2 linked regions of the Homo sapiens genome follow. The protein of the gene in region 1 interacts with the protein of each later gene in a pairwise test. Each region holds a gene or a part of one and is shown on either strand. Other genes may lie near its edges.

The links. Proteins that work in one complex are often made in the same cells at the same time.
Region 2: the proteins of CLTRN (region 1) and RBM18 interact in a two-hybrid assay, tested with the Homo sapiens proteins (one large-scale study listed by BioGRID and IntAct).

The regions. Positions count from the first base shown.
Region 1 is NC_000023.11:15,630,193-15,634,241, forward strand, and holds part of CLTRN (collectrin precursor), read right to left. Parts: intron 1-4,049. UniProt on the Homo sapiens protein: Plays an important role in amino acid transport by acting as binding partner of amino acid transporters SLC6A18 and SLC6A19, regulating their trafficking on the cell surface and their amino acid transporter activity.
Region 2 is NC_000009.12:122,240,679-122,244,733, forward strand, and holds part of RBM18 (probable RNA-binding protein 18), read right to left. Parts: intron 3,191-4,055; exon of another isoform or gene 3,066-3,190; intron 1,366-3,065; coding exon 1,206-1,365; 3' UTR 1-1,205.

The DNA.
Region 1 (4,049 bases):
GATATATTAATGGCTGGCTGGCTGAATGGATGGATGGATGGATGGATAGATGGACAGAAGATAGATGGTAGATTGAACAATTAGATGTATGTATGTATGGACTAATGTTGTAGGTAAAGTTACTCAGGCAGTAGCCCTAGGTAGACCTTGAACGGGCTTTACCACAAGAAAGAAGGAAGGAAGGAAGGAAGGAAGGAAGGAAGGAAGGAAGGAAGGAAGGAAGGGAATTTTACACACAAGAAATTTCTTGTATCTCTTGTATTTTAGGCTTTGCTGATGGTTTATTAAATAATTTCAAATAGTTGTTCATTTAAAACAAAGGTAAAGTAGCATTCCAATTCTGTAGATCCCAATGTCATCATTTGAAAGTATTTTACCATTGCATATGCCACCATCAAATATCACAATTAAACACAATAGGCAATCACTGAATTGCAGATGCCACATTTTAAACATTTATTAATAAAACTTCTGGCCCAATGCTGGGTTGAAAGTCAGGAGTTGTGGTCCTAGAGACCTAGGGAAAGATAGGCTGCTATATTTTTCCATCCTTGGAGTGAAGACACCACACTGGTCATGGCAAGCATCAGCAATCAGCAATCAGCATGGGTTGGGGTGGACATAGATTTTAATGTGATGAGAGGATCCTTCCAGGTGAAATTACCCACCAGAGGATTAGAACACTTTGGTTCCTCTTCCTATAGATAGGTGTATTGTTCACTTTCCACGTCCTCCAGAAAGCAAAGGAAATCAACATTCTATAACCATCAATCACATCACTTCCATTCATAGTATCCAACATTCACTAACAGCTACATTTTGAGCGTCTACTATGTGTATGGAAGAGATACAGTCCTTGTCCTAAAATGAACTCAATGAAAGGGAAAAATGCCATATATACTCATCCTCCCTCTCCCCATTTTAATGCTTTATAAGAGAGAGGAATGTTTCTTCTAAAGATGAAGCTGTAAGTAGCAAATGTCTATTTATAAATCATCATTTAAAATGGCTATCTCATGTAAATTCCCCCAAAATCACTCCTCACTGGGCTTGGAGTGAATGATAATTTTCCACAACAATAAATAGATTGTGGACAGCCAAATTTTACCCTGATATTTGTATATGTTAAGTATGAAACCTGTATTACAAACATTTTAGTAAAGGAAGCATTCTGAAGTAGGTGGCAATGCAATAGCAGTCTTAGAAATAATAATTGCCAGGGCCTATTTTCCAGTTTCTTCAGTTAATAAAAAAAGTATTTATGGAGTTAGAAGAAAAATAACAAAGAGCTAGACGTATGTGATGATCATTACAAGGAATCTCGCTTCCCCCTTCCCAGCAACAAGGAAAAATGATTCATCAGGCATCACGAAAGAATGGGGAAAAACTAAAAAGGAAGATGTAAACAAATGAGGACAAGTTTTTCTTCTTTAGAATAAGAATAATATCTCAACCAAAAAGATTCCAAGGGGAATTGCTGTAGAAATTTATCAAACTGAGCTGTGTCAGTGGCAAATTAGGTGCATATTGTTCTTTTACAACCATAGATCCAGTTGCAGAGTCCTGGCATTGCTGGGCTTCACCAATTGCAGTGTCAGGAACTTGCTGCTTGGTGGACATGATAAGCAGCTCAAAGGCTATCTAACAGTAATATATCACTTTGTCACATTTCATAGTGTTTGCTGTAATAAATTGATTCACTACCTGTGCATTGCTTTTACTAAGAATAATAAAACTTAACTATCTTTCTGGATCATTCTGATTTGATGTTCTGCTAAAAACATGAGTTCTTTTTCCTGAAAACTAAAATCAAGTGTTAATTACTTCTGCTATTCCTGCAATGTCAGGGGGTTCAGGAAGAGGATGAAAAAACTGATTAAAATTCCTGGAACGAGCTCCTAGAAGCCTTGAGAGTGAATATCTCTCATATACCTCATAAATATAGAGAGAAGAGGGGCAAAAGAGGGGAGGAAAGAAGTATCAGGTGTGGCCCTCAGAGCTAGGGGATGTTGAGGAACGGGGTTTGCTCTGTTCTAAGATAAAGTAATGGTGCCAAAAGCAGGAAGAGCATTTCTGTCCCCCTTCAAACAAAATAGAGCTGACTGCCGGGCGTGGTGGCTCACGCCTGTAATCCCAGCACTTTGGAAGGCTGAGACGGGCGGATCACCTGAGGTCAGGAGTTCGAGGCCAGGCTGGCCAATATGGTGAAACCCCATCTCTACTAAAAATATAAAAATTAGCCGGGCGTGGTGGCGCATGCCTGTAGTCCCAGCTACTCGGGAGGCTGAGGCAACAGAATTGCTTGAACCCGGGAGGTGGAGGTTGCAGTGAGCAGAGTTCGCACCAATGCACTCCAGCCTTGGCAACGGAGTGAGACTCCGTCTCAAAATAAATAAATAAATAAATAGAGCTAAAGAGGCTGGGTGTGGTGGCTCGCGCCTGTAATCCCAGCACTTTGGGAGGCTGAGGTGGGCAGATCACAAGGTCAGGAGATCAAGACCACCCTGGCTGACATGATGAAACTATTAAAAATACAAAAAAATTAGCCGGGTGTGGTGGCGGGCGCCTGTAGTCCCAGCTACTCGGGAGGCCGAGGCAGGAGAATGGTGTGAACCCGGGAGGCGGAGCTTGCAGTGAGCCAAGATCTTGCCACTGCACTCCAGCCTGGGTGACAGAGCAAGACTCTGTCTCAAAAAAAAAAAAAAAAAAAAAAATAGAGCTAAAGAGCCAAGACCCAAGAATAGCCAGAAAGACAATAAAAGACAGACAAATATGATTTTCAAACAGTACAGAATCAATTATCGGGGAATTGAGACCATCCTCAGAATTGCTCTGGATGATTCTGGGGGTAAATAGGGTTACTGGAATGATTTGAGTGGGCACTGTAGCACAGTGAGATTGATGGACTTTGAAATCAAACCTACCTGGTTTTAAATCCTGTTACTATTACTTTCTAACCATGTGACTGTAGGCAAGTTGCTTTACATGTGCCATATAATAGCAATGATAATGCTAATGATAATATTAAGTATTTATTACATGGTAGAAATCAGACTAGATGTTTTGTATGCATCATCTCACTTAATTCTTACTGCAATATTATGCATATTTTATTATCACTGTTTTTCAAATCCATCGTTTTAACCACTCAGCCACGACTACGTGCCTCATCTCTGTTTTTCAGATGAAGGAATTGACACTCAAATACGTAGAGTAACTTGTCTTTCAGAATGAAACAAGACTGGTGAAAGGAGTTGACCTAGAACTCTATTTACTCTCCCCAGGCTTTACTCAACACACTTACATTAGATTTTTATCAGGTATGTATATTTAAGAACAGCAAAGAAAAACATTTGTTATATTCGCTATGACATTACTCATTTTATTTACACCTCTATTTTTAAGACTATTCATTTAATTAAGACTTTATAAGAATGTGGTTTCAGGATATAAAAGTGTTGACTGAGCCACATCCGCTTGTGTGAAAAACAAGATCTGTGGAAATCCAAATGCATTTTTATTTACTATTGACCTTATGGGAATATAAGTATAACTAGAAACAAACCAAGCAAATTTACTAATGACTCTACTCAGCTGGGAGCATTAGCTAGGGTTCTATGTCCTAAGTCTTTGACCTGGCTTTGTTACTATAAGATTACAATCTCCTTTTAGGCAAGGACCATCCATGTTATTTATGTTTGTCTCATCCACAATACATACTATAGCTCCTATCACAGAATGGATGGTCAATAAAACAATAAAATATTCTTACTTATCTGGGCTTTGGTTTCTGGAGGGTTGGATTTGGATCATTGTTAAGGTCCCTTCCTAAGACCCAGTTGTGATCTTAGATACAACTAAGGTCTAACATTATAACAGTCTATTTATATACTGGATTCAACATCAATTCTAGTATATACATGTAAATCTGAAATTGTGCTGTGTCCATGACTGTCCTTGTAAACTACAAAGTTCCAGGTTATATAAAATTAGCACTTTATAACTGCTTTTTATGGTCATGCTAGTAACTTAAATTGATATAGCACTTT
Region 2 (4,055 bases), on another chromosome or scaffold:
CCCTAAATCTGTTGGTTGACTTATCTTTCTCTATTGTTATATTCAGGATGCTTAGAGTGACAAACATATCTAGAGGCAAGTATGTTCTCCAAGTGAAGAATCATTTCCAAGGCATGCAGTCCTTTAAAACTACCTACCACACAGAGTCATTACAGTCTTGGTGCCACAGTGGCATCTGTTCCATTGACTTTCTGTGCCCACTGCATGTCCTCTCCTCGTCCTGCACAAGATAATGCAATCTCTTCCACTTAGACCGCTACACAATTATTAGAAAATTGTATGTTTGATAGTGACCAATATAGCAATGTTTAGGTTTTCAAAGAAATTTTGCTTTTTCTATTTAGACTGACCATGATATAATTCCAAACAGAACATTCTCATGCTATAAAAACAATCCCATGCAATAAATGTAATTTTAAAAGTCCCATGATAATAGCAACATTTGTTATTATAGAAGGCATGGTTATTTAGATTTGAAAAAAATGGTTGCTATAGAATAAAAGTTCAATTTCCAAATAGAACTTGTGTTGTGGTATAAAATGTTAAATTTGATTCTAGTTTTGTCAACACAAACAATTTTAAGATATACACCATGTTTTCCTAGTTGGGATTTTGAAACAATAAGCATAATTCTTAAACAGATTACTACAACATTTGTTCAAAGAATCAGCTCCTTTTTGCCAAGAACTTTCTCTTTTTCAGTCCAGTTGGAGGGATTGCCGTAGTAAATTCTGGAACAACAGTTCTGAACATGATTTAAAATCTGTCTCTCACTTCCCTCCCTGCCTTTTACTTTTTCTTTATGTTGTAAAAGACACACGAGCGTAGAAAAATGCTCAATTTTTTAATAGATGTTAATATTTTTAGTTTCCTGATTTAAATAATATTTTGTGTATTTGCCTTTTGCTCTGGCACACTATAGAATGTTTCTGGAGTTACAAATCCAAACCAACCAGCCAATTAGAGCATCCCAGGGTTCAAATCACAATTTGGGATACAACGCTATTTATTCTGGATGATGCTCAATTCCATACATAGTTTAGGGAAGAAACATCCATAAGAACATCCAAAAACATTATGTTACCAAATGCTAACATGTGATTGTGCTCCGTTGAATAGTACCATTCACATCTACAAAGTACACAGGCAGACGATTTTAGGTGTGGAGACCAATTTGCTTTTGCTGCTACAGTAATTCACAACCATCATCTTCGAGATTTCCATGCTGTTCTAGAATATGGAGTAGTCCTTTTTTTATCTGGTGGCTTAAAGTAGGAATAAACAGGCGCTGCTGGATACTCTGCATCAGGATTTTCCGCCATCATTTTCAGTTTTGCTTCAATGGCTTTTATCTTTGCAGTGACACTGGAAAAATAATAGCAGAGGATCAGAGTGGGCCTAGGTATATTCAGAAAATAGCTGTACAGTTCCTCTCCTTGAGCCTCTTGGGAATATTAGAGACGCAACAAGATACTAAATTACAGACATTTAAACATTTTATATAAAAGCCAGAAATAACTAATTCTCTCATTCTAAGAAACAGATCAAGTCTGAGCCATCTATTAAGTTTTTAACATAAGCCTGGACATTGTTGGGAGTACTTCATATAGTTCTACATTTAATCCTCAGACGCAGACACTGTTAGCACCTTAATGCTTGGCAGAGAGTAGGTACTAAAAATAATTCTTTTAGAATTGAAAACAACATTATAAGATAGGTTATATTCCTTATTTTGCAGATGATGTAACTGAGGCACAGAAAGGTTCATTTGCCCAATGTTACACAGCAAGTAAACGATAGAGCAGAGATTTGAATACAAACTGACTCAAAAGCCCAGGTTTCACCTGAATCACTGAATAAAAATGGAAAAAAAACATTCTGGAAATCCTATACAATCTCTTTTTACTGATGAATGCATGTTAATAAAAACTATCATTTACAAAGTGCTTACAATGAGCCAGGCACAGTGCATTTTACTTATACTGTTTTTTTTTTTTTAGACAGGGTCTTGTTCTGCCACCAAGGCTGTAATACAGTGGTGCCATCATAGCTTACTAAAACCTTGAACTCCTGAGCTCAAGCAACCCTACTGCCTCAGCCTCGTGAGTAGGTAGGGCTACAGGCACACACCACCACATCCATCTGAATTTGTTTTTGTTTTTGTTTTGAGATGGAGTCTCGCTGTGTCGTCAGGCTGGAGTGCAGTGGTGTGATTTCGGCTCACTGCAACCTCCGCCTCCCAGGTTCAAGCAATTCTCTTGCCTCAGCCTCCCAAGTAGCCGGGATTACAGGTAGCAAGCGCCACCACGCCCAGCTAATTTTTGTACTTTTAGTAGAGACAGGGTTTCACCATTTTGGCCAGAATGGTCTCAATCTCTTGACCTCGTGATCCGTCCGCCTTGACCTCCCAAAGTGCTGGGATTACAGGCGTGAGCTACCGCGCCCAGCCCCATCTGATTTTTTTAACTTTTTTTGTAGAGATGGAGTCTCACTATGTTGTCCAGGCTGGTCTTGAACTCCTGGCTTCAAGTAATCCTCCTGCCTCAGCCTCCCTAAATGCTGGGATTACAGGCATGAGCCACTGCACTCGACCTACTTATAATGTTTTTAATCCTTGCAATGGCTCTACATGGGTTATCATGCATGTTTTATAGATACAGAAACAAATGCAGAGGTGGTGATATGATCAAGGTTCACACAGTTAACAAACTGTAGTGAGGATTCAACTCATCACCAAAGCCCTCATTTTTTCTTCTCCATCAAGTTAAGAGCTGAATAGTCCTATATTGTACAGGAAGGGAGAGGAGATCTTAGAGAAGTTGCGAGGAATTTGCTTTTGATTGAGATCATTGCTATCCCTGGATCAGAATGCAGAGCACTCAGGGAGTAGGTATTTTTTGGCCTATGGCTACCTTCATTTTCCATTCTTGATGCGTTAATGGTCTATGGCCAGTGAGAGAAACTTGGAAGGAGTATATACATGGGCTTTTGGAGATCCTCGAAAGGTATACATGGGCGAGAAATTTAAAAACTAAGTTACAAGAAAAAGAACACTGATATATTACCGAGATGCATTCTGGCCCCTCTTCCATTAATGCCACAGCTGGTCACTGATTTTGTATAAGTCACAGGGAAGCAACCTTCTCTCATTAGGCATAGATGTTAATAGAGAGATGTAAGCTGAGGTCCTCTGGATAAAAAAATAGATGGAAAACCCTAGGCTATCTTGTAAACAAGTGGCATATACAAATCATAAGAAACTAAAGACATGTTCATTGTAACATGAAGACCACCAAGCATAAATGCAGTCATCTCTTTCAAATAGGAGTTAGTTAGATTTATGAAAACCTTCATGGAAATCAATCTGTGATCAAGGAGGTTCAAATCTTATGAGGAAAATAACACAGTGGATATATGCTCCCAGTGACTCTACAGAAGTCCCTTAATTCCCTAGAGCACGAAATAAAAAAAAAAAATCATATTAAACTTAAATGAATAACTATAGAATGAATTTAAATTTACCAATTTACCATTCCTGAAAACATTTCAGGAACACCTTCCCTTGGGTTTAATGAGATGCTTGTAAATCTGTTTTGTTTGGTGCAGATAATATACAAGAAAGGCATTTATTTCCCCTGCTTGGTACTCCACCCAAATAGGCATCACTTTCCTGACTTTAGAATTGTTGGTTTCTGATCCTTATGTATCACTGATGCTCCTTCACGTATTTTCTTCCCCTGCCCCGGAACAGGTTTTAGTCCTGCATTTACAGCCTGGGGCTTCTTTGAAGTAGTAACTACAAGACTGAATTTTGAGGTCTAATAGACCTGGCTTTAAATCCTGAGTGTTATTTGCCATCTGTGTGATCTCAGCCATAAGTAAATGACACACTGCAAATAAAGTGTTTAGCACAGTGCCTGCTTCAGCGTAAGCTCAATAAATCCTGGCTATTGTTATTGTTATTGCTAAAATGTCTCCCTAGGCTACAAGGCAAAACAAAACAAAACAAAAAACAAACAAACAAAAAACCCACCTTCTACTTCTGCTCAACCATC